7 linked regions of the Homo sapiens genome follow. The protein of the gene in region 1 purifies or fractionates together with the protein of each later gene. This does not show direct contact. Each region holds a gene or a part of one and is shown in the gene's direction. Other genes may lie near its edges.

Evidence for each region.
Region 2: the proteins of NIPSNAP1 (region 1) and IVNS1ABP purify together in Homo sapiens (affinity purification with mass spectrometry; one large-scale study listed by BioGRID and IntAct). This does not show direct contact.
Region 3: the proteins of NIPSNAP1 (region 1) and FAT1 purify together in Homo sapiens (affinity purification with mass spectrometry; one large-scale study listed by BioGRID and IntAct). This does not show direct contact.
Region 4: the proteins of NIPSNAP1 (region 1) and HP1BP3 purify together in Homo sapiens (affinity purification with mass spectrometry; one large-scale study listed by BioGRID and IntAct). This does not show direct contact.
Region 5: the proteins of NIPSNAP1 (region 1) and IFT140 purify together in Homo sapiens (affinity purification with mass spectrometry; one large-scale study listed by BioGRID and IntAct). This does not show direct contact.
Region 6: the proteins of NIPSNAP1 (region 1) and WDR19 purify together in Homo sapiens (affinity purification with mass spectrometry; one large-scale study listed by BioGRID and IntAct). This does not show direct contact.
Region 7: the proteins of NIPSNAP1 (region 1) and POP1 purify together in Homo sapiens (affinity purification with mass spectrometry; one large-scale study listed by BioGRID and IntAct). This does not show direct contact.

The regions. Positions count from the first base shown.
Region 1 is NC_000022.11:29,564,114-29,567,613, reverse strand, and holds part of NIPSNAP1 (protein NipSnap homolog 1), read left to right. Parts: intron 1-3,500.
Region 2 is NC_000001.11:185,303,744-185,307,243, reverse strand, and holds part of IVNS1ABP (influenza virus NS1A-binding protein), read left to right. Parts: intron 1-104; coding exon 105-230; intron 231-616; exon of another isoform or gene 617-756; coding exon of another isoform or gene 757-759; intron 760-1,600; coding exon 1,601-1,708; intron 1,709-3,500. UniProt on the Homo sapiens protein: Involved in many cell functions, including pre-mRNA splicing, the aryl hydrocarbon receptor (AHR) pathway, F-actin organization and protein ubiquitination.
Region 3 is NC_000004.12:186,591,357-186,594,856, reverse strand, and holds part of FAT1 (protocadherin Fat 1 isoform 1 precursor), read left to right. Parts: intron 1-3,500.
Region 4 is NC_000001.11:20,784,508-20,788,564, reverse strand, and holds the start of HP1BP3 (heterochromatin protein 1-binding protein 3), read left to right. Parts: upstream 1-1,257; 5' UTR 1,258-1,370; intron 1,371-1,892; exon of another isoform or gene 1,893-2,379; intron 2,380-4,057. UniProt on the Homo sapiens protein: Component of heterochromatin that maintains heterochromatin integrity during G1/S progression and regulates the duration of G1 phase to critically influence cell proliferative capacity.
Region 5 is NC_000016.10:1,521,573-1,525,072, reverse strand, and holds part of IFT140 (intraflagellar transport protein 140 homolog), read left to right. Parts: intron 1-156; coding exon 157-289; intron 290-377; coding exon 378-521; intron 522-1,116; coding exon 1,117-1,245; intron 1,246-1,372; coding exon 1,373-1,555; intron 1,556-3,500. UniProt on the Homo sapiens protein: Component of the IFT complex A (IFT-A), a complex required for retrograde ciliary transport and entry into cilia of G protein-coupled receptors (GPCRs).
Region 6 is NC_000004.12:39,213,529-39,217,028, forward strand, and holds part of WDR19 (WD repeat-containing protein 19), read left to right. Parts: intron 1-1,072; coding exon 1,073-1,143; intron 1,144-2,312; coding exon 2,313-2,485; intron 2,486-2,567; coding exon 2,568-2,682; intron 2,683-3,500. UniProt on the Homo sapiens protein: As component of the IFT complex A (IFT-A), a complex required for retrograde ciliary transport and entry into cilia of G protein-coupled receptors (GPCRs), it is involved in cilia function and/or assembly.
Region 7 is NC_000008.11:98,127,293-98,130,792, forward strand, and holds part of POP1 (ribonucleases P/MRP protein subunit POP1), read left to right. Parts: intron 1-302; coding exon 303-470; intron 471-1,072; coding exon 1,073-1,248; intron 1,249-2,685; coding exon 2,686-2,934; intron 2,935-3,500. UniProt on the Homo sapiens protein: Component of ribonuclease P, a ribonucleoprotein complex that generates mature tRNA molecules by cleaving their 5'-ends. Also a component of the MRP ribonuclease complex, which cleaves pre-rRNA sequences.

The DNA.
Region 1 (3,500 bases):
CCCAAAGTGCTGGGAGTACAGGCATGAGCCACAGTGCCTGGACTATTCACTTTTCTATTTTGGCATAGATGTCACCTCCTCCTGGAAGGCTGCCGAGATTTCCTCCACGCGGGCTGGGTCAGGCACCTTCCTTAGCTCTCCAGGCCTCAGTAATTACCTCCTCACGCCCTGATCATGTACCCCTATAGCTGCCTGTTTAGTTGTCTGTCTCCATATATGGGTGAATCCCCAATATGCAGCACATATTTGTGGAATAAATAGGAGTTCTTCTTGTCTGAGCTGGTGTCTTACAGTCCCAGGGGCACCCCTAGCATGCCCCATCCCAGCCTAATAGACACATCAAAGTTGGCACCAGCTATAAGAACCCACACATGAATTTGGCTGACTCACAGCATCTCAGCCACTCAAAGGGACCTCAAATTCAGACCCACACTGTCCAAAATGATAGCCACTAACCACATGTAGTTATTTATTTATTTATTTTTTTGAGATGGAGCCTCGCTCTGTACTGTCACCCAGGCTGGGGTACAGTGGTGCAATCTTGGCTCACTGCAACCTCTGCCTCCTGGGTTCAAGTGATTCTCCTGCCTCAGCCTCCTGAGTAGCTGAGGTTACAGGCGTGTGCCACCACACTTGGCTAATTTTTGTATTTTTAGTAGAAACAGGGTTTCACCATGTTGGTCAGGCTGGTCTTGAACTCCTGACCTCATGATCCTCCCGCCTGAGCCTCCCAAAGTGTTGGGATTACAGGCATCAGCCACTGCGCCTGGCCTATTTATTTATTTTTTTGAGACAGCGTCTCACTCTGGTTTCCCAGGCTGGACTGCAGTGGTGCAATCACAGCTCACTGCACCCTTGACCTCCCGGGCTCAGATGATTCTCTCACCTCAGCCTCCCAAGTAGCTGGAACTACAGGTGTGCACCACCACAGCCAGCTAATTTTTTATATTTTTAGTAGAGACAGGGTTTCGCTATGTTGCCCAGGCTGGTCTTGAACTCCTGGACTCAAGCAATCCGTCAGCCTTGGCCTCCTGGACTACTGAGATTACAGGTGTGAGCCACTGCGCCCTGGCCTCACATGTAGCTATTGAAATTTATATTAGTTAAAATTACATAAAATTTAAAGTTCAAGCTGTGTGCCAAGGTGCTCACCTGTAGTCCTAGCTACTTGGGAGGCTGAGTTGGGAGGACTGCTTGAGCCCAGGAGTTCGAGGCCGTGATTGAATACCATCACACCTATGAATAGCCACTGCACTCCAGCCTGGGCAACACAGTGAGGACCCTGTCTCTAAAAAAGAAAAAATTCAGGACTGAATATGGTGGCTTATGCTTATAATCCCAGCAGATTAGGAGGCTGAGGTGGGAGGAACACTTGAGGCCAGGAGTTTGAAACCAGCCTGGGCAACATAGTGAGACTTTGCTTCTATAAAGAAAATACATATTAAAAAAAAAAGAAGAAAAGATTTTAAAAAGAAAAAATTCAGTTTCTTAGTCATACTAGCTACATTTCAAATGCTCACTCATATACACACAGGCTCATGCAGAAAGTACTTTTGGACAGTACTGGTTTAGAGTGTCTGCATAGCACAGCCATAACAGATGGTCCTCTAAACTTCCCTTGAACACTCCTAGCCATGAAGAGTTCACTTGTAAGCCAATCTATTTCATCCTTTGACAGCCCTGATAATCGTGTCTTTGAAAATAATCTGTGACCTGCAGATAGATAGGTGTATCTCCTTAATCAATTATTTGGTTTCCGTAACAGACATTAACATATTATTTATGTTTTATTTTTATTATTTCCATTTAGAAACAGGGTCTCACTATATTGCCCAGGCTGGAGTTGAATTTCTGGGCTCGGGCAATCCTCCTGAGTAGCTGGGACTACAGGCGTGTGCCATCATACCTGGCTAGACACTGATATGTGGCTAAGGGAATAAGAGAAAAGCAAATTGCCTTCAGTTTCAGCCACTACAGCTTTCCCATTTTAAGCTTGACTTGATCAGCTCCAGCAGTATTCCTTGAATTCTCTTAAGCATTTGCTAGTTGTGAAATGAACTCTGAGGGATGGGATCCTGACTTTTTCTTTTTTTTCTTTTTCGAGACCGAGTCTCACTCTGTTGCCCAGGCTGGAGTGCAGTGGCGTGATCTCAGCTCACTGCAACCTCTGCCTCCCGGATTCAAGCAAGTTCTCTTGCCTCAGGCTCCCGAGTAGCTGGGACTACAAGTATGAACCACCATGCCTGGCTAATTTTTGTATTTTTAGTAGAGATGGAGTTTCACCATCTTGGCCAGGCTGGTCTCGAACTCCTGACCACAGTTGATCCACCTGCCTCGGCCTCCCAAAGTGCTGGGATTAAAGGCGTGAGCCACTGCCCCTGGCCTTTTTCTTCTTTTTATTTTTCTGTTTGGGACAGGGTCTCGCTCTGTCACCCAGTTTGGAGTGCAGTGGCATGATCATAGTTCACTGTAACCTTGAACTCCTAGGCTCAGGCGATCCTCTCACCTCAACTTCTCGAGTAGCTGGGACCACAGACATGCACCACCATGCCTGGGCTAGTTGTTTTGTTTTGTTTGTTTGTTTGTTTTGTAGAGATGAGGTCTTGCTATGTTGCCCAGGCTGATCTCAGACTCCTGAGCTCAAGTGCTCCTCTCCTGCCTCAGCCTCCCAGAGTGTTGGGATTACAGGCCTGAGCCACTGCGCCTGGCTGATCCTGACTTTTTAAAGCATACCCTACATTTTTTGTACCTTGAAGTTCAGTCCCTCACATAGTCAGCTGAATCATGTTGAGCTGTACGCTGGGAGTAGGGTTCAAGAATCTACATTTTAATAAACTTGTAAGAACCATTGATCCATCTCCTATGGAGAGCACCACAGTTGTTAGACAATTCCTTCTTCTTGGCTGGGCGCGGTGGCTCATGCCTGTATCCCAGCACTTTGGGAGGCTGAGGCAGGTGCATCACCTGAGGTCAGGAGTTCAAGACCAGCCTGGCTAACAAGGTGAAACCCTGTCTCTACTAAAAATACAAAAATTAGCTGGGCGTGGTGGCATGCGCCTGTAATCCCAGCTACTTGGGAGGCATAGGCAGGACAGTCTCTTAAATCCAGGAGGTGGATGTTGCAGTGAGCTGAGATCACGCCACCGCACTCCAGCCTGGGTGACAGAAAAATAAAGAAAATTCCTTCCTCTTGCCAATGATGCTGTCCTTGTAACTTTTCTCCGTTAATCCGTTTTCCACAGGTCATTCCTGGTTTTGGTAGATTTCTATCCATACAGTACTTTTGCCATTTCCTTTGGGAAAAAGACCTTTAAACCATAGGGTCAGGCCATTTTGCAGATGGGAAAATCAAGGCACAGATGGAGTCAAAAAACAGGTGAAGGTCAGGCTGGGGATGGGGATGGGAAGTTACAGAGTCTGAGTTTCTAGACTGCTGGCAGCCAGCTGCCCTTAGCTCTAGCTTGCCTGTGTGATCCCCTGGGGACCTTCCTCCGCTGATG
Region 2 (3,500 bases), on another chromosome or scaffold:
TGGAATGAATTGTGCATCTGTGACAACTTTATTATGAAATTGGGAATTAAGCTGAGAACTAGGAGCCCAACACTGATCCATGTCATTGTTTTTCCCAATTCTAGTTGGAGGTAATGCTTGAAGATAATGTTTGCTTGCCCAGCAATGGCAAATTATATACAAAGGTAATCAACTGGGTGCAGCGTAGCATCTGGGAGAATGGAGACAGTCTGGAAGAGCTGATGGAAGAGGTTAGTTTTAAAGTAAATGGGATTCAACCATTTTTAAAAATTATTTTGCTATAACATGAAGGATTCCCTTTCACTTTTATTTTATAACCATGACCCTAAAGAATTTAAATTTTGCTATAGGTACCCCTAAGCTGAGAAACAGGGGGGGTGTCCAGGTGAGCTGAATGAACTGTTCAGTTTGGTCTTCTGCTTTTCTTTTTTTATTTCTTTGCTTATTATGTGCTGTTAACTTTCTTTAAAGTAGCATGTAATTTGCTTTAGAAATGGGAAGTGGTACTGAAATTTTCTGTAGATTCTTAATTTTTCTTCACAGGTTTTTGCTTTAAATTTGACAAGTAGGTAAAAGCTTCTAATGGTTGTTCCTCCCCATTGATTTATCTCCCCATAGGTTTATTAACAAAACTAGGATACCCAAGACTGAAGAAACAAGAAGAAACCTCAAGTGTATTGACACGTAAAGAAGCAGCAGTCCTGCCCCAGTTCTCCTAAGAAAAATCCGCTGTGGGCAGAGAACGATGATGATTTAATGGTGTTTACTCCTTTACAGGATTCTTGTCTTTAAAGCTGTGTGTTTTTCAATGGTGTTGTTCATACATATAGTCACTCACTTAACTTGGGCTACTTTTAAAAAAAATACACAAGATAAAATTGATGGAGAAATGGTGGGAATTGAAAACACGCAGGTGGAGCAGTGGAGTAACCTTGAGTTTCTCTCTCCACTTAAACCTTTCGGAGTTCCTTTATGAGGGCTTACCAAATCTGTTAGGCCTGCAGAAACACTGTCATCATTATGGTCTAAAAGGGCTAACAGATTATCTTTAAATTCTATGATTCCCACTTGAAAGTCAGATGCATTTGCCATGTATTTGCATCTGTCTCAATGGAGATGACTCTACAGCTTGCTTGAATTTTTGCATTTGTTTTTTCTTTGTTTTTCTTGACATTGCTTACAGGAAGGAAATATGTTTATGCAAACCAGACCACTTATCTGCAAAGGTGTAAACTATATTCAGTATTTTATTGTAAATATGTATATTCTTTAAGAGTATATATTGTACTAGTGCTTTTTTTCTTACTGTTATATGATAGAAGCTATGAAAAAAATGAAGATTTCTTTCAAGCCAATCAAGCCAACGACTCTTCAGCCAGTATTGGAAGATTTTGTATTTGATTTTGGTTTTTTGTTTTTGTTTTTTAATTTTTACCACCATGACATGTATTTTTCTTTACCTCCGGATCCTGCCAGAGTAATATGTCAAGAAGCTCAAGAAGCACACTGGAGGTTACCTTGAGGCGTTTGTGTAATCTGCATACTAGTGGAGTAGCCATGGTGACCGTAGCCACATGGGTGTTCTGTTGCTGTTTTGCAGGTTCAAACCTTGTACTACTCAGCTGATCACAAGCTGCTTGATGGGAACCTACTAGATGGACAGGCTGAGGTGTTTGGCAGTGATGATGACCACATTCAGTTTGTGCAGGTACACATTGCACAGTCTGAGGTAACCTCAGGTTAAAATTTGACTAGAGAATTTGATAGCATACTTAAATTTTCCTTTAATAAAGGAAAGTGGACCAATTTCATTGGTATAACTGGACAGAAACATTTTTGGGAGAAAACAAGCATATCTTAGAGTTAGTATTTTTGCCACATGAAAAGATATTAACAAATTAGGAAACCCTATTGAAATTTTTTTCTCATAAAGCAGGAATTACAAACAGTAAAGGCCAATAAGATGGAACAATATAGAAATTATTTGGGAAGATTATGAAAAGCAGTTGTTTGTGTCAGGCATGACTGATAGTTTTTTTTAAAAAGGGGCAGGGGGACTTAAATTGTTGATGGCTATGAAAGAAATTTTTGGATGTTACCTTAACTACTGAGCTGTCTTACTGGAAATTAGAAATGGTATAGTTAAGATGGACTATACAATGTAATAAGTCTAAAAGTGGTGGATCATATGTTAAAACCTGATCTAGATGTTTCTTTAACCAAGATGAATTAAAATATAGTAGAGTTCCACTGTGCTGATTGAGTTACTTTGCCTTTTATAAAATCCAATTTCATTTTTCCCCTATGAGTAAACACATAATTATTCAGACACATTATCAACAATTACTAGAGAACAAACTTCTCAAGTATAAATTTTTTAAGTTTATGGACAAATACAGAAAAGTACACAAGTCATAATTACCACATAGTGAACCTACCAGTGTAAACACTACCCAAGTCAAGAAGAGGTTTCTAGCATCCCGGCAGCCTTTCTCTTGCCTCTTCCCAACCGTTTCCGTATAGTGCTCCCAAAGGAAACCATTATCCTACCTTCTGACACATTAAATTAGTTTGGCTATGCTTGAAAAAATTTATATAAATGGTCATATAGTATATATTTTTATTTGGCCTTTAGCTCAAATTATGTTTTTGAGGGACAAGCTATAAAGCAGTCGACTCAGCCCAGACTAAGGAATGCTTTTCTTTAAAAATCAGAGGGTAAGTGGTAGACTTAGTAGTAGCCTATATGGTTACAAATTATCAGGTGTTAGCTCTCTCAGGTGTCCTGTGGCAACAGTGAGTGAATATTTCTAAAAGTTTTGGAATTTGAATTAGTTGAGAACCTATGTTTGTGCATTTTGAATATATTGAGGATATTTTCCCCCTTAACTCTAAACATTTTGAGTTAACATTTTAAAAGTACATTTTCAACATGCAGAGGTTGAGTGCCCAATAAGTGGCAGGCCATAATGTTCGGTATGGCAACACAAAAATGTGTAAGAGACAGTTTCTGCTTGTAGGACCTTCTAAGAGTGGGCAAAACAATACAGGCTTATAAGAGGTAGCTACGAAAGGCCTAAAGGAGAGGACACAGTGAGACAGGAGAGAAGCCAGGGATATTTCACACAAGAGGTAACTTTTGAGCAGTGTTAGGATTTAGAGGAGTCTGCATAGCAGATAAAGGGAGAGGTGTTAGCAAAGAGTATCTGTGAGGATGATACTCTTGGAATTGCAGGTCATAAGACTGGGAAAGTAGGTAAATGCTCCCTGAATGGGGCTTATACTTTATCCTATAGGCAGTGGGAAGCCTTAGGTAAGAATACAGTGATACGAAAGTTTTGCATTCACTTTAGTAATGGTGAAAAACTGGGGAACAGTCTATTAGGTGGCAGTCTTTGGGCTGGAATATCCCAACTGATTTCTGGTTTTATTTTCTAAAATTGTTGCCTTGGACCCTTCCTATTTTTATAACCAGACACAGAAAATCAATAAAAGTTTGA
Region 3 (3,500 bases), on another chromosome or scaffold:
GTGGGAAAAGGTAACCCCACTAATAATTATTCAATCCAGAGTAATATAGTCCATAATACATCATATAGTCCATAAATCCATATAGTCATTATCTATTGCAGTCATTTTTCAAACTAAAGATAGCTATAAGTATGTGCTATCATTTCTGATTTCAAGTATATATATATATATATATATATACTTTCAAGTATATATATATATACACACTCTATTCCTAATCAACACAGGTATATTTTGATACCGTATATATGGTATCAAAATATACCTGTGTTGATTAGGAATAGGGTGTATGGACATAGCTTTGCTTGTTAAACCAACAAGATAGAATTATGTCTTTTATCAATTTTAATTCTAAGAAGTTCCTGTTTCCAGTTTATGTAATAATTTATATCTTGGCCCCTAAATGCTCTTTATAAATACATTTCAGAATTTTATCAGCATTTTCTTTCTAGTTCTTGTTGTTGGAACATCAGTCTTCTTAATAATAGTCCCAGGTGGCCGGGCGCAGTGGCTCACGCCTGTAATCCCAGCACTTTGGGAGGTGAAGGCGGGCGGATCACAAGGTTGGGAGATCGAGACCGTCCTGGCAGTGAAACCCCGTCTCTACTAAAAATATAAAAAAAATCAGCCGGGCGTGGTGGTGGGCACCTGTACTCCCAGCTACTGGGGAGGCTGAGGCAGGAGAATGGCCTGAGCCCGGGAGTTGTAGCTTGCAGTGAGCTGAGGTCACGCCACTGCACTCCAGCCTGGGCGACAGAGCGAGACTCTGTCTCAAAAAAAAAAATAGTCCCAAGTGCTTTCAATAAGTTATGGTCAAATTAGTTATGAAAACTAGCTTCCAGATAGTACAATGCAGAGAAAAAACATATATACAGGAGTGTTTTTATTTTACTCATTACCATAATGTAATTATCAGTTGTAAACTGAAAGTCTGCTGAGAGTCTGTTCCTGCGTCGTATTCCCGGTTTTCCAGGGCCATTACAGATTACCACAAACTTTGTGGCCTAAAACAATGTAGACTTGTGTTGCTGTCATTCTGTAGCTTAGAAGCCCAACCCCTGTGTCTCACAGGGCTTAAGTCATGCGATCAGTAGGGCTGCATTGCCTTCTGCAGCTCGAGGGAAGAACCTGTTTTCCTTCCTTTCCTGGTTTTTAGAGGCTGCCCACATTCTTTGGCTCTTGGTTTCTTCCATCTCAGAGACAGCAACACAGTGTTTCATTGACCACCCTTCTGTCAGCAGAGCTCCCCCCAGCCGTAACTGGGAACGCCTCTGTGCAGAAAAGTTACCCTTATGATTACACTGGGCCCACCCAGGTAATCCAGGGAAATCCCTCATCTCAATTTCCTTATCTGAACCGCGTCAACAAAGTCCCTTTTGCCATGTATAGTGACATATTCACAGGCTCCTGGGATTAGGACGTGGACTATTTGAGGGCCAGCCTTCTGCCTACCACATGCGTACATATTTACCTTGGCATAGTTATTTTAAAACAATCTGATACACAAATGAAAAGGGAATTTACACAGGAAACAGACGGACAGAGTCTCCTCCTATACTCGTACATTAGCTCACCAGCGATTAGTCCATCTGCAAACAGACGAGAAATTTGCAGGGAAAGCAATCAGAACAGGGACAAAAACATTCTTGTTTTAGATTGCATATGTTTCTCCTTCAATTTCTTTTTTTTGGGGGACAATGTGTGAGTGATTAAGCAGCCGGAAGAGTGGCGAACCACAGACTGTAGTCTTGGAATGTCGAGTCTTGCCTGTAAGATGTTAAAATAAGAATCGTTTTGGCCTGGCATGATGCATAATTGTAATTGTGAAAAAATTTAAAGCTAAAAGTTTTTTTGTTTAAATTCCAATAAAATATGTTTACGTTATTCCTTTGATTAATAATAACAAATATATAGCTCGATTAAAAAAGTCTCTGAGACACACAGCTAACAGTGAGGAGACCACGCATCATTATGTGGTTGTATTAAAGCACTCATCGGTTGGAATCTGAGGTAGAAATGGTATAATACAAAACTTTATTTCATGCACTGTTTTCTAACTAACTGAAGATGTTCCTAATTGACTGCTTTTGTACCTTTTTGCAAGCTTCCATAGTGACCGTAATGCACCTTGTCAATGCTGTGGTTGACACGGTGAGCACAGAAGGTACAGTTGTAAGTGCTCGTGCTTGTGTCTGTGTCTTGCAGCAGCCGTGTCGTAGAGCTCGGCCGCATTGCTATTGCAATGGTAGGAAAAAACAGTTTGTGGTTTTGAGGGGGTTGAGTCCTTTTATTTTATGCAGGTGTGTATATACGTAATATGAGTGCTTTGCAAAAAATATCTCAATGTATGTTATGTCTTTGTTCCTTTTTACCATTCATAGTGATTTACATGAGATCTGGAGAGCTTATCTGTAGGTGGTGCAATCAAGAAAAAGTTCAGAAGTAATTTTACCTAAAATTTTTTTGAAACAAAAATTCTTCTTCGTATGTACAGGAATAAGACTTGAATAATGTAAAGCTTTCATAATTAACCTGTAACTGACTCTTCACTTTTGGTTTTTCCCTGAGTATGATCAAAGAAAAGGGTGTAGAGCATGGTAAAAGAATATTTTCATATTTGGTTTAGTGAAAATTATTTAATGTGAAGCTTTATCTGCTCAGAGTTGTAAGAAAGGACATTGAGCACCTTCCCCAAATTATTTTAAATTAAAATAGCCCTTTATTAGTGCACTGAAATTCATCACATGGGGAAGACACAGGCTAGTACTTTTCAAACTGTAATGTGAATCAGATCATCTGGAGGGCTGTTAAAAGCCCAATTGCTGGTTCTCAGCACCAGCATTTCTGATCCAACAGGTCTGGGTTGGGACTTTAGAATTTGCATTTTTCACCAGTTCCCAGGTAGCTCTGATGGTGCCGGTCTAGAGATCCCACTCGAGAACTGCTTACAGAGGCCATCGAGTACACAGACGTCATCATAGAGTTCGGGGGATCCTTTATGCTAGGACATGATGCTGTCAAGGTTCAGGAGGAGGGAGGATAGCTCTGGGCCCCATTTGCTATCAGGCAGAAGAGGCTTAGATACTCCAGTGTTCATGGTTATAGTTACTGATGACGCCTACACTTCTTTTCCTAAGAAGTACCATGTTTTCACTGGGCAAATCAGAAACATACCTGTATTTTGTCTAGTGAAGTTTTAGTGTTAAACTGATGACCTTCAGCATTTTAAATATTATTGAAGCTTATAGAAGCAGAATTTCAACAGTTCCTTCATTGCAGTCTCCTTCATTGACAAATATTTTTTGGCATATCCAAGAAGTGCACATGGAATTTAAAGTTGAAAGCTATTACTAGTGCCTACGTAACAAAAGTTGTTGATCTTTTTTTGTTTAAAGGAATTGCTGCTTTTGTTACTAGACTTAAAAATGATTCTGTAGATACATGTTACCTAAATGCCGGCGTATTCATGTTTTAGAGACACCACAGTCTTTTAAAATTAC
Region 4 (4,057 bases), on another chromosome or scaffold:
CTACAGGCGTAAACCACCATGCTCGGCCTAAGTTTTGTTGTTGTTGTTTTAAGCAAAAATCTGTGGAGGAGGAAACATCTCCCAGTTTGCTCTCATCTGAGTCTGCTTCTTACATGAGATGGGTCTAAAGACATTTTAGGGTAAAAGAAGAACGGTAGGATGTTTTAAATGTACGAATACATAAAAATGGAAGTCTTTGAAAAGGAAGACAACAGAAACGTTAACAACGAAGGGAGTGAGCAGAATGAAGAATGGCATAAAAGAGCAAAACCCCTTCTGAACAGCTGGAATATGACACCAGAGTACTAAAGACTGGTAATGCCATCAGGATATGAATGATAACGCACACCTCGTAAAGAATTTTTTATGCTGGCTGTGAAATTTGAACTGATAGAGTGGGGTGGCTGTGGCAGGGAAAGCTGGTGAGACAATTATGCTAATGGCAGGGCCAGACGACTGGGTGAGTGCTTAAATGGTGTCGTAAGTCTTTATAAACCTTGGCACATACGTTTGAGTACTGGTCATCTACTGTAAGCTTGGGACAATTCTACTGGTATTTCCTTACATTTATTACCCAGTCCCTCCCCTGTCCCCCAACACCTGAAACTTTAAAAACAATCTTTCCAAACTAGCTTTGAAGAGCTGTACTTTTCCTTCGTATGTACGTTGTTTAAGTACGCTGATAGCAACGCAATATGACAATTCAAAGGGAATCCCGTCTTCTAATCTCAGGGTTTTCATTCTGGGGAACTCTCCCTGCATGTGAGGATTAGGGAGCCCGGAAAGCCCGTTTCAACTTTTCAGTTCTGAGTCCCGAGTCACTACTCTGCCCTGTACCGTCTGGAGACTTAATGGGAGCGAGTGCGAGGCAGTGAATTCTCCGCTCTCTAGTTTTCCAATTCTACGGTCTTCAAAAAAAGGTTTGCTCTTGAGCTGCGCCTAAACTGAGAAGCGGGAAAGGCTAGCCCCGCTAAAGGCGGACGAGTGGCAGAAGCGGAAACCCAGTTAAGAGAAGGGACTGCCCTGGAGAGCACAGAAAGCGAAGGTTAGCGGGGGAAAGCGGCGCCCCTCCGAGGAAACCGACACCGCCCCGCCACGCCAAGGCAATGGGCGCCACCACGCAGCGCCGGGAACGCGCGCCGACGCCCCGCGCTCCGCCGGCGTCCGCCCGTCCCCGCGCGCCCCCTCGCACCCCACGCGCGGGAGGCGGGGCCGGCGGGGGCGCGCGCGGGGCCGCGGGTAGGGGGGCGGGGCGGCAGAGCTCGGCGGCTGGGACTGGAGGACAGCGGTGGCGGAGGCGACTAGCGGCGGCGGGAGCGGCGCCGAGAGGCCGTGCGGGACGCGGGCGCCAGGACCGGCCGAACGCAGAGGTAACGCAGGACCGAACAGGCGGCCGGGGAGTGGGCGCGGGCTCGCTGGGCCCCGAAGGCGAGTGGCGGAGGCCGCTCGCCCGGGGCGCCGACGCCGCTCCCAGAGAGGAGGGGGCGGGGCGCCCGGGTCCCCGGAGGTGGCGCCTTTTGTCTGCCTTACCCGGCCGCTCCGCCCCGCTCCCTTCCTCTCTCCTGCGACCTAGCCCCCTGCCCTTTTGGTGGACTCCTCCTCAGGGGCCCTCCGGCGCGCGCGCTCCCGCCCTTGTTTTGTTTGGATTTGGGGGAGGAGGGGGAGCTCTTCTCTGGCCGTGCGACCCTGCGTCCCAGCGCGCCTGCGTCGGCGTCCTCTGCCCGCCCCGATTGGCTGAGGGCTGCGCATGCTCCGAGGCCCGCCGCGGTCCGGCGTCCGCCCGCGCCCTCCCCTCACCCCACTCCCTCAGCGGTTTTCGGAGCCGGTTCGAAAGATGCCGGCGGCGGTGACTGGCTGCGGCGGGCCCGCCCCCCGGGTTCTCCGCCCCCGCCGCCGCCATTACGGAGCTCCCAGTGGTGAGTGTGCGGAGCGCCGAGGCTCGCGTTCCGCCGCTGCTTCCGTCGCCGGGGCGGGCGCCGCGGTGTCCCTGCCGAGCGTGAGCCCCGAACTGTCACCGCGCCGAGCCCCAGCCTCATCCGTCGGTGTCCGCGGTCCGAGCTTTCCCCGCCTCGCTGGCGGCCCGCGCTCTCCCCCGCCGTGCGCGTTCGCCGCTGTGGCCTGTAGCTACCTCGCCTCGCTGCTTTGTCTCCGCTGCTCTTGCCGTCCTTCCCGCGGCCTTCTGCGGGCGGGGCTGTCGGCTGTCGCTTTGCTGCTCCGCGACGGCGGCCTTGAGTCTCGCTCCCCCGGTGGGAAACGTAGAACTGGTTACTCGCCACCTTAGGCGGTGGGGTTTGAATGAGAGCGGTGCCTCGGTAGGTCGTCAGAAAGTTACAGTCGCCCATCTGAGCGTTTGTAAGAGATGGAGGCAGGAGTGGTGAGGTGAGAGCCCCAGATCTGAGGGTTGGTACTGCATTAACAGCTGTGACCGGGGACAGCCACTTAACCTTTTTGAGAAAGAGTTGTCTCCCGTACGGAGACCGGACCGGGTGAACTGTGCTGCCGCATCCGCGTGCACGTTCTCTCTGTTGTTTATTGTGCTTCCTGACTTTGCATTGCATTAAAAAGTGAGAATCCAATTCGAAATAACGTCTAAAAATCGCCTGGGGCTTTTTGAGCACGCTGTCTTGTCTTAGAGTGAAATTAGAGGTGACTAGTGTCATTTTTGAAAGGTGCTCTAATTTTGTTTAACCTGACATAGGCAAAAAACTTGTTAGCTTTTTGATTTTTCATTGCTCTTCTCAAAAGTTTAGTGTAATTTGTTTCAAAATAGAAGTAACATTTTAAAGTTTGCTGGGTTGGTTGGTTTTGGCTTTGTTTTTAAGCTTGCTTGGAAGATTGTAGGGCTGGAAGTTAGTGGAGAACGTATACTGAACTCTTCATTTCCGGATGAAAGTTTTAACTCCTTACCCAGTTAGATTGTGATTTTATTGAGATGAGACACTGTAGTGTCCTTAGTATCTATGCCCAAAACAGACACTGAGTATATGTTTGCTTATATAACTTACATTTGAAAATGAAAAACAAGTGGTGTCAGCAGTCAAATTACAGGCATGCTTTTTGTGACATGACTCGTTAAATCTGAGTGTAGTGAATGACTTAAGATTGGGAACAATGTGAGGTGTTCAGCGCATCACTAATGACATGTATTACATATATTTTATGGTAAAATGTGAAATTATAGTGCTTTCCCTAAAATGCATATTATCAAGGATATCAGTAAACTGAAATACGTTGTTAAACTCCTCACTTTTCTACAGCCTTCTCTTAATGTAGAGGAAATAAATTAAAACTGAAATTTGGGGCTTTTTATTTCTACAATACTTTTTTTTATTGCTTGCATTCAAATAATTTAAAGCCGTGCATGGTGGCTCACACCTGTAATCCTAACACTTTGGGAGGCCAAAGAGGAGGATCGCTTGAATCCAGGAGTTAGAGACCAGCTTGGGCAACCCTGTCTCTACAGAAAATACAAAAACTATCCGGCTGTGGTGGCGCATACCTGAAGTCCCAGCTACTCAGGTGGCTGAGGTGGGAGGAGATCGCTTGAGCCCAGGAGGTCGAGGCTACAGTGATCCCTGGTCATGCCACTGTACTCCAGACTGAGACTCTGTCTCAAAATAAACAACCGATTTAATTTAAGCATTTCCCTTGACAAAAAGCAAATATTTGTTATTGTTGTAACATTAAGTTTAAGCAAGCTGATGTTCATAAGAGGACCATGTAAACCACAAGTAAACTCAGACTGTTTATTTTTGGCACATATAAAAACCAAGATGAAAAACATGAATAGGCCGGGCACGGTGGCTCACGCCTGTAATCCCAGCCCTTTGGGAGGCTGAGGTGGGCGGATCACGAGGTCAGGAGATCGAGACCATCCTGGCTAACACGGTGAAACCCCGTCTCTACTGAAAATACAAAAAATTAGCTGGGTGTCGTGGCGGACGCCTGTAGTCCCAGCTACTCAGGAGGCTGAGGCAGGAGAATGGCGTGAACCGGGAGGGGAGGTTGCAGTGAGCCGAGATCGCGCCACCGCACTCCAGCCTGGGCGACAGAGCAA
Region 5 (3,500 bases), on another chromosome or scaffold:
CTCCCTTTGGACAAAGCCAGGGGTCCTCACTCTTGGCCCAGCCTGTTTGCAGGTCAGGTGACATGCACTCTAAGGGTGGCACAGGGGCGGGGTGGGGGCCGTCCCGGGTTGGAGCGGGGCTCGGGTGGAGAATCCATGGTCTTGGGCTGCCCGCAGGACCCTGTGGCGGTGGTGGGCGCAGTACCTGGAGAGCCAGGGCGAGATGGACGCCGCGCTGCACTACTACGAGCTGGCCCGGGACCACTTCTCCCTGGTCCGCATCCACTGCTTCCAGGGCAATGTCCAGAAGGTAAGGTCCCCGCAGGGGAGCCGGCCAGGCGGACACGAGGCAGACACAAGGCCACCGTGTCTCGTCTTTGGGTTCTTTGTCTTTCTAGGCTGCGCAAATAGCCAACGAGACAGGAAACCTGGCGGCCTCCTACCACCTCGCCCGCCAGTACGAGAGCCAGGAGGAGGTCGGGCAGGCGGTGCACTTCTACACCCGGGCACAGGCCTTCAAGAATGCCATCCGCCTGTGCAAGGTACCACGGGCCCGGGGTGGGGAGCCGGCGCTTCTCGAGGTCCCCTGAGGAGAGCTTCAAGTGGAAAAGTGGACAGAGAGAATCGTGTCAGTGACACGTGGTCCGGCCAGTGTCTGCCACTCACTGCTCACCCCGTCTGCCTCACCCGCCCACCCCTCTGCCCACCCCTGGCCGCTTCCATCTGACATTGTTTGCAAAGCACTGAATTGTCCCCAGATGTTTCCCAGGCTCCAGGGCTCCTGAGTGGGTGGTGAGGCTGCTCACGGCCTATGGCCTTGCAGACGGCAGACCCTTCCTAGATAGCTGTTGGGCGTTCTGCACCACACAAATGTCCCAACCTGGGCTCTCGCTTCCAGAAGCATCTCCCGTGTCAGGTATTTCTTGCAGTGCTCTGTGAAATAGAACCCAGAGCATCGGAAAATCCTTGTAGACAAACCCAGTAAGTCATCAGCTCCTTAAAACCCATCACCGCAGAGATCGCTGAGCAGTGTGTCAAAGTGAAGGGGCGGGTTCGCACCCGGCCACATTCCAGAATCTCAGCGGACCTGGGGAAGCCAGTGGGAGCCGCTTCAGGGCCCTGCCTCCCTCCCTGCAGGAGAACGGCCTGGACGACCAGCTCATGAACTTGGCCCTGCTGAGCTCCCCCGAGGACATGATCGAGGCGGCCCGATACTACGAGGAGAAGGGCGTGCAGATGGACAGGGCGGTCATGCTGTACCACAAGGTGAGGGCTGGCCACCGGTGGGGACCTGGGGGAGGGGCAGCAAGCCAGGGGGCCCTTGCCTGTGCGAGGCCTCCGTGCTCGGGCCCCCAGGCCTCGGGCAGCTGCTCAGAGCCCACCGTATCCGCAGGCTGGCCACTTCTCCAAGGCCCTGGAGCTGGCCTTTGCCACCCAGCAGTTTGTGGCCCTACAGCTCATAGCAGAGGACCTGGATGAGACGTCAGACCCTGCGCTCCTGGCCCGCTGCTCCGACTTCTTCATCGAGCACAGTCAGTACGAGAGGGCGGTAGAGCTGCTGCTGGCTGCCAGGAAGGTACGGGGCCAGCGGGGCCTGGGCTCGGCTCCACGCAGGCACCACGGCTCAGGTCTCCTGTCCCCAGAGGCTGTGGGAATGGCTGCTTGCTTGGTTATGAGTTCTCCAGGAAGGCTGCGGTGGGTGCCCCCTGCCCTAGGTTTCACATACGGCACACCCAGGAGGTCCGCAAGTGTAGACTCGCCATCCTTCACGCTGGCATCTGATCATACACAGGGAATGGTGCACTCACCTATGGTGGGGGGTAAAAACACACAGAACACAAAATTTACCATCTTAGCCTTTTTTTTTTTTTTTTTGAGACAGGGTCTCGCTCTGTTGCCCAGGCTGGACTGTGGTGGTGCCATCTTGGTTCACTGCAGCCTCAACTTCCCAGGCTCAAGCAATCCTCCTTCCTCCTGAGTAGCCGGGAATACAGGAGTGTGCCACCATCCCCAGCTAATTTTTTAAATTTTTTTTCATAGACTCAGGGTCTTGCTGTGTTGCCCAGGCTGGTCTTGAACTCCTGGGCTCAAGCAATCCTCCTGCCTCAGCCTCCCAAAGCACTGGGACTGTAGATGTGAGCCCTGTGACTGGCCAGGAACAGTTTATTCAAATGGAAATATGGGTGGTTCCCAAATATAAAATGCTTAGCTTTATTCATGATAGAAATACATATCAAAATTCACGGAGATGCCATTTTTTACTGGGCTACTAAGGGTGGAAAGGCTGGAGTGCAGTGGCGCAATCTCGGCTCACTGCAAGCTCCACTTCCTGGGTTCAGGCGATTCTCCTGCTTCAGCCTCCCAAGTAGCAGGGACTACAGGTGCCTGCCACCACACCCAGCTAATTTTTGTATTTTAGTAGAGATGGGGTTCCACCACGTTGGCCAGGATGGTCTCGATCTCTTGACCTCGTGATCTGCCTGCCTCGGCCCCCCAAATTGCTGGGATTACAGGCGTGAGCCACCATGCTTGGCCGACATATTCTCTTTTTGTTTTTTGAAATGGAGTTTCACTCTTGTTGCCCAGGCTATAGTGCAATGGGGCGATCTCAGCTCACCGCAACCTCCACCTCCCGGGTTCAAGTGATTCTCCTGCCTCAGATTCCCCAGTAGCTGGGATTACAGGCATGCACCACCACGCCCGGCTAATTTTGTATTTTTATTTTTATTTTTATTTTGAGACAGAGTCTCTCTCTGTCACCCAGACTGCAGTCCAGTGGCACAATCTTGGCTTACTGCAACCTCAGCCTCCCGGGTTCAAGCAATTCCCCTGCCTCAGCCTCCCGAGTAGCTGGGACTACAGGCGCCCACCACCACACCTGTGTTAATTTTCTGTGTTTAGTAGAGACGAGGTTTCACCATGTTGGCCAGGATGGTCTCGATCTCCTGATCTCATGATCCACCCTCCTCAGCCTCCCAAAGTGCTTGAGATTACAGGCATGAGCCATGGCATCCAGCCTAATTTTGTATTTTTAGTAGAGACGGGGTTTCTCCATGTTGGTCAGGCTGGTCTCGAACTCCTGACCTCAGGTGATTTACCTACCTCGGCCTCCCAAAGTGCTGGGATTACAGGTGTGAGCCACCATGCTCAGCCATATTCTTTTTTTTTTTTTTTTTAAATATAAATGTGTTATTACTTCATATATATTTGTGGGTTATTACTGTTTTTTTTTCTTGTGGAGATGGGGGTCTGACTGTGTTGCCCAGGCTGGTCTCAAACTCCTAGGCCCAAGTGATCCTCTCACCTTGGCCTCCCAAAGTGCTGGAATTACAGGCATGAGCCAACATGCCCGGCCTAAGACATATTCTCAAGTGAAGAATGTAAAATTTTTCTTAAAATGAGGGCTGGGTGTGGTGGCTCACGCCTGTAATCCCAGCACTTTGGGAGGCCGAGGTGGGTGGATCACCTGAGGTCAGGAGTTTGAGCCCAGCCTGACCAACAGGGAGAAACCCTGTCTCTAC
Region 6 (3,500 bases), on another chromosome or scaffold:
TAAAAACAAAGAACAGATTAGTGATTCCCAGAGGTTAGAGATGGAGCTGGGGTCAGAAGGAAGGAGGTGAGTGTTTATAAAAAGGCAACATGAGAGATCCTTGTGGTCATGGAACTATCTATATCCTGACTATGGTTGTGAGTCTCATGAATCTCATGTGTGAGAAAGTTACTAAACACACACACTGAGTACAAGTAAACACACACACTAAGTACAAGTAAAACTAGGGACGTCGGAATAAGATTTGTGGTTTCTATCAATGTCAGTATCCTGATTGTGGTATTATACTATAGTGTTTCAAGATGTTACTATTGGGAGAAAAGGGGACATGGAATCTCTCTATCTCTCTATATTGCCTCTTACAACTACCTGTGAATCTGAAATTATCTTAAAAGTTTAATTAAATGAAAATAATGAGGGAAAAAAGGTAAGAGGAAAACACTGGAAGAGAAGAGAAGGAGAAAAGGAGGTTAGGAGGAAAGAAATGTTACAACTATTAGTTCCCAACATTGTACTACACAACTTTCATTTACATCAACTTACTTATTCTTACTACAACCTTATGAAATAATGTTATGCCCGCATTTTTCAGAGCTTTCAACCTGATCCTTCTGATCCAAATTTAATGTTCTTTCTATACTATAATTCACTTCCTTTTGTATGAAAGAACTCTGGGCAGGGGAGAAAGGGAACACATTGTAAAGAGAAACCTGTATCATCTTACAATAATTAATACTACTCAGGAGAATATTTTCGTACCCAAATTTCTTCAGGACAATTTTAACCTCCTTATTCCTGAAGCTATAGATCAGAGATTAAGCCAGGCACAACCCTACCCGCCCCCCATCTCTGCACACAGTAAGCAAACAAACAACAACAACAAACCCAAAAGTTTAAAGATAAAATATAATGAAGTACAGAAATTCTAATATTTTCTTAACCCAGTAGATCATTCTGTACATCACATTTTGGAGACCAGTAACCTATTCCATGGTTTGTAATTTTTTGTGAATTAAAACAGTTTTATATAAAGATCATATATATTTTTTAATAATGCATTTTTGTTTTTCAGCATTAAAATCCAAGACTTGGTTGACTTAAAAGACATGTATGTTATACTCAACCTGGATGAGGAAAATAAAGGTATTGATTTTTCTGAAGCAGATTGACATTTTATCATTCCAGTTACAGAGAGTAAGGTTGTGTTTGTTATCGTGTGATTTGCATTCGTTGTAGGAGGAATAATTTTTTTTTTTTTTTTTGAGATGGATTCTTGTTTTGTAGCCCTGGATGGAATGCAATGGCATGATCTCTGCTCACTGCAACCTCCACCTCCCAGGCTCAAGCTATTCTCCTGCCTCAGCCTCCCAAGTAGCTGGGATTACAGGCACGTGCCACCACGCCCAGCTAATTTTTGTATTTTTAGTAGAGATGGGGTTTCACCATGTTGGCCAGGCTGGTCTCGAACTGCTGACCTCAGGTGATCCGCCTGCCTTGGCCTCCCAAAGTACTGGGATTATAGGCGTGAGCCACTGTGCCTGGCCAGAAATAAATTTTAATACTCTTCACTAGAGTTCCCTAAAATAGTCTCCTTATTTTAGTAATTATGTTGTCATACTGCTTGACTAGAAAGATATGTCTACTTTGATCCAGAGATTTATAGTGAATTTTATCCTAATTCTAATGTAAAGTATAAATTCTTATATACAGTCATGACCCACATAATGACGTTTCAGTCCACATACATGGTCCATATTTACTACCTTTTCTTTGTTTCTTTCTTTCTTTCTTTCTTTCTTTTTTTTTGAGACAGCGTCTTGTTTTGTTGCTCAGGCTTACTGTACATTTTCTATATTTAGATATGATTCAATGTGCAAGTACTTACTGCTGTGTTACATTTGCCTGCAGTGTTCAGTACAGTAACATGCCATACAGGCTTATAGCCTAGGAGCAATAGGCTATACCATATAGCCTAGGTACGTAGTAGGCTATTTGATCTAGGTTTGTGTAAGTACACTCTATGATGTTCACACAACAACAAAGTCACCTAATGACAGATTTCTCAGAACATAGCCCTGTTGTTAAGTGACACATAACTGTACTTTCCCTTTGAGCCACAGGGAATGAGCCAGTGCTCATATTCTTATGCCAATCCATGGCAAATTTCCTAGTCTAAAAAAAAAACTACTTAAACTAGTAAGGAAAATATTTGAAAATTGTTATGTCTCTGGTAGCTTAAATGAAAATATTTGTTTGCTGCCTGCAACTATATATTGTTTTTGAATAATCATTTATTTTGTCGATTATTTCAGGATTGGGTACCTTGTCCTGGACTGATGATGGCCAGTTGCTAGCACTCTCTACCCAAAGGGGCTCACTTCATGTTTTCCTGACCAAGCTTCCCATACTTGGGGATGCCTGCAGCACAAGGATTGCCTATCTCACCTCCCTCCTTGAAGTCACCGTAGCCAACCCTGTTGAAGGAGTATGAAAATGGTGTTATTTTTCTTTTATTTATTAATAAAATAAGTTTAGCCGTTGATTTATTACTATTTTCTTTATTATAGGAGCTACCAATCACAGTTTCTGTTGATGTGGAACCCAACTTTGTGGCAGTAGGTCTTTATCATCTGGCTGTAGGAATGAATAATCGAGCTTGGTTTTATGTCCTTGGAGAAAATGGCAAGTCTAAATCCAGTTGTTTATTCTTATCTAGCACATAATTTCTGTTCTTATTTGGGAAGCACTGCAAGTTTCTTTTAGGACCAAGTCTTTCACTCTTTTTTATTCACATATCTCATTCTTAGCTTAAATGGTTTTGTAAGTCTTCTAAAAATTTGCATAATTTTTAGAAAGCTTTTATTCTTTACCTTTGTAGTGAAGGCAGCATAGCATAGTGGGTAGAATGTGAGCTTCAGAATTAGAGAGGCCCTGGATTTAATTTCCCCTTCTGCCTCTGTTAGCTAAGTGACTATAGACAAATCATTTTACACTTGTGAGCCTTACTCATCTGGAAAATGAGGATACTTCTACTTTTAATGGATCATGAGGAAGATTAAATAAAATGCGTGGTCTCACTTGGCACAGTGACTTTTTTTAAGCACTCTTAAACCTAGTGGGTACTTAATAAATGTTAGTTCTGTCTCCCCTTTTATTCTTTGAATAATAGCTATTAGCATGTGAGGAAAACCTTGTTTTGTTTTTTCTTCCCCTGCCTCCTCCCCATCACCTTTCCCCAATTCTAGGTCAGATAACCCTCAGGAATAGAACAAACCTGAAAATTAACCTGTTAAACAGGAAATACCATTAAGTTTCTTGCAACTTAAGGTTTAATTCTTTAATTGTTTTGCATATAATTTTATTTTCTATTACTTTGTTTCAGGTAAACCATAATGGAATGCCTGAAGGCAAATTTATATGGCAACTAAGATTAAAATGAAATTTAATCTTTAAGATTCAATTTAATTATTTAATCATTTAAGATTAAAATGAAATTTTAA
Region 7 (3,500 bases), on another chromosome or scaffold:
TTGAAATTCATGTTGCACCGTTTATAGGAGAAAATTTCACCTGTATCTGTTATATCCAAGGTCCTTTATATGTCATCCTGACATGATTACCTTGTGTGCTACCTACTAGCTTTGTGACCTCGAGCAAGTTAATTCACCTTCCTACGTAAGATTCCTCTTTAAAAATAAGTAGTAATAGCCACCTTACAGGGTGACTATAGGATTAAAAACATGGTCAATGTTGCCACCCAACAAATATTAGTTCTCCACTATAATGTTTATCTCTGATAAAGGTGACATGTTTCTTTTTGAAAATATACTAGAGCCTCATCCTGGAACTTCACGACAGCGGCAAACCAGAGTCAACCCCCATTCTCTGCCTGACCCTGAAGTGAATGAGCAGTCTTCCTCCAAAGGGATGTTTAGAAAAAAGGGAGGATGGAAAGCAGGTCCCGAGGGCACGTCTCAGGAGATCCCCAAGTATATAACTGGTGGGTACTCATAAAGAGGTGCAGTTTGCTTGTATTTTGAACTCTCGTGTCTAGTGCAGCAACAAACTGCCCTCCTTGTGGTCCTGGCTCTGCCTCCCCTACCTCTCCTCTCCTCCTCCTACTTTAGACCCTTCTCGCCTCTAGCCTGGACTTTGGCCAGAGCTTCCTTGGGCTTGATGGCTCTCCCTTCTTCAGTTTCTCTCCCTGTCTCTTACTCTTCTTCTTACAAGTCTTTGTGAACTGTTCCTCTTTGTCTTAGCCCCCGTGCCCCTCTTGTTTTAAATATGCCATCCACACTCAGCACAGCATTCTCCAAGGATGGAAAATTGAGTACACACAAATGGCAACCAAACCTTTATTTAAAGGGCCTGTCTCCAGGCCCTTTCCATCCTCTTCTGTTCTTCACCCTATGATCCCCATCCACACTACCACAATTAAACCCTATATTCCTTGTACCTTGTACCTATACCTTAGATATGCTTTCTGGTCTCTCTTTACGCCTTCTTGGTGGAGGAATTCAGTTAAGTTTCCCCAGCAGCCTGTTTATTCTCCAATGTTAATTCAAGATTGGTGTTTAATGACTTTGTCATCTCCTTCAACAGCTTCTACTTTTGCTCAAGCACGAGCTGCTGAAATCAGTGCTATGTTAAAAGCTGTGACCCAGAAGTCTTCGAATTCACTGGTTTTTCAGACTCTGCCACGGCACATGCGACGAAGAGCCATGAGCCACAACGTCAAACGCCTTCCCAGACGGTTACAGGAGATTGCCCAGAAAGAGGTAGGAGTTCCACTTAGTGTAAATGTTTAGATTAGTAGCTCCTAGAAGAAATTGAGAAGTATTGACCTAATAGAATTTATTAAAAATGAAAACCAAGGCTGGGCATGGTGGCTCACGCCTGTAATCTCAGCACTTTGAGAGGCTGAGGTGGTCAGATTGCTTGAGCCCAGGAGTTCAAGACCAGCCTGGGCAATATGGCCTAACCTTGTCTCTACAAAAAAATCCGCAAATTAGCTGGGCGTGATGGTACATGTGTGCCTGTAGTCCCAGCTACTTGGAAACTGAGATGGGAGGGTACCCTGAGCCAGGGGAGGTTGAGGCTGCAATGAGCTGTGATCATGCTACTGTACTCCAGCCTGGGTGACAGTGAGACCTTGTCTAAAAAGAAAAAAAAAACTCAGAAAACATCACCCTTATGGTTTTTGTTTTTGTTTTGCATATATTTGATTTAATCATTATCCAAACTTCTTCCCTTCAAACGAAATTCACAGGCAATTGGCTATTATGGGTGCTTTGAAATATAGGATTTGATACTCCTCTCTTGTAAGGGTGTTGAATAGTTGATGTTCCCTTCCCAGATGTTAAAAAAAAACTCTGACCCTCTTACCGAGTGGTTTTGGATCTGTGTTTCTAGGGTGTGCCCAGCTTGGGGTAGGAAGGTTAAAAAAAAGCAATGTCAATGCTTAGCATTTGCTTTCTGACTTTTTCGAAGTTGAAAACTTGAACTGGGTTTTAATTTTTGTACAAGTCTAATTGTGTTTTGGCTTCACCAGAATTCTAGACTTGAACATTCTAAGATTAAGCCCATGTCTTTACTAATTGGTTTAAAACCTATTTATTGAGCAGCCTTCTATGTACCATTGCTATGCTGGTGGTGGGGTTTGAGTTCAAGAGGGAAAACTAACAAGGAATTTTATACTTTCTAGATTTAATATAAAATCTGTTTCCCAGTGATAGCATTCAGCATGTGTATGTCTGTAGCTTAACTGAGATGAAATGTATGGGTTTTCCTCACTTGTATTATTTTTGGTCTTAAGTTTTTGGTTTTAGTTACAATTCTACAGGTTAAAATGACAACAAGAAGCTAGCATTTGATTTCTTCTTTCTTGCCCTCTAATACTAATAGCCATATTAAGCTTGTGTTACTGTGTTGAACATTTTATAAGTATTCTGATCTTCATATTCCATGAAACTTGCCTAGTTAGTGAGTGATGGAACTGTGCCTCCTTCCTAGGTCTCCTAGCTCTAAAACATTCACTCTTTCCATTGTCTTCCTTCTCTACTTACATTGAAGAAACTAAGTTAACAATTTAAGCAAACTAATGGGATCTATAAAATATTCCACTTAATCTAAAGTTATTTGTTTGCATTCCTGACCGTTAACTCTGTTTTGAGATTCTTACAAACTGGGATATGTCCCTCTACTTGAAACTATAGGCGGAGAAAGCCGTACATCAGAAAAAAGAACATTCAAAAAATAAATGCCATAAAGCTCGAAGATGTCACATGAACCGGACGCTAGAATTTAACCGTAGACAAAAGAAGAACATTTGGTTAGAAACTCACATCTGGCACGCCAAGCGGTTTCATATGGTCAAGAAGTGGGGCTACTGCCTTGGGGAGAGGCCAACAGTCAAGAGCCACAGAGCCTGCTATCGAGCCATGACGAACCGGTGCCTCCTGCAGGTGAGCTTTTCCAGTGGGCTTTTTTTGTTATTTTTGTTTGATCCTTTTCCATAGAGGCCTTTAGAATAGTTTATGATGTGCCAAGCCCCGTTTATGTGATTATTCATTTTAAAAATAATTCCTGAGCATGAAGCCCGGGTCCTTTGCCAGATGCTGGAGATCAGGCAGCCTAAAGTTAGGGGGGTGACTGACATTAATCAAACGATTTACCAGATATGTGGTTGTAAGGGAAAAGCATACAGTATGATGAGCATTTCTAACCTAACTGGAAGGCGTCCCCCAGAAGTGCTGTTTGAGCTGAGCTCTAAGGGATAAGATGGGAGGAGAGGGGGAAGGCAGAAGGAAGCCAGGTGAGAGTGAAGAACTGGAATCAATTCTGTGTGACAGAGAAGAAGAGAAGGAGAACAAGGCAACATCAGGGCAAGGTTAGCCTAGAGAAAAGAGTAGGAACCAGGTCGTGCAGGTCTTGTTGATCATGTCAAGTTTTATTCACTATAGATTAATCTAACAGTCGTTCATCAATAACAGATATTTGAGAATCAACTGTGTACCCTGAACAGGGTTCA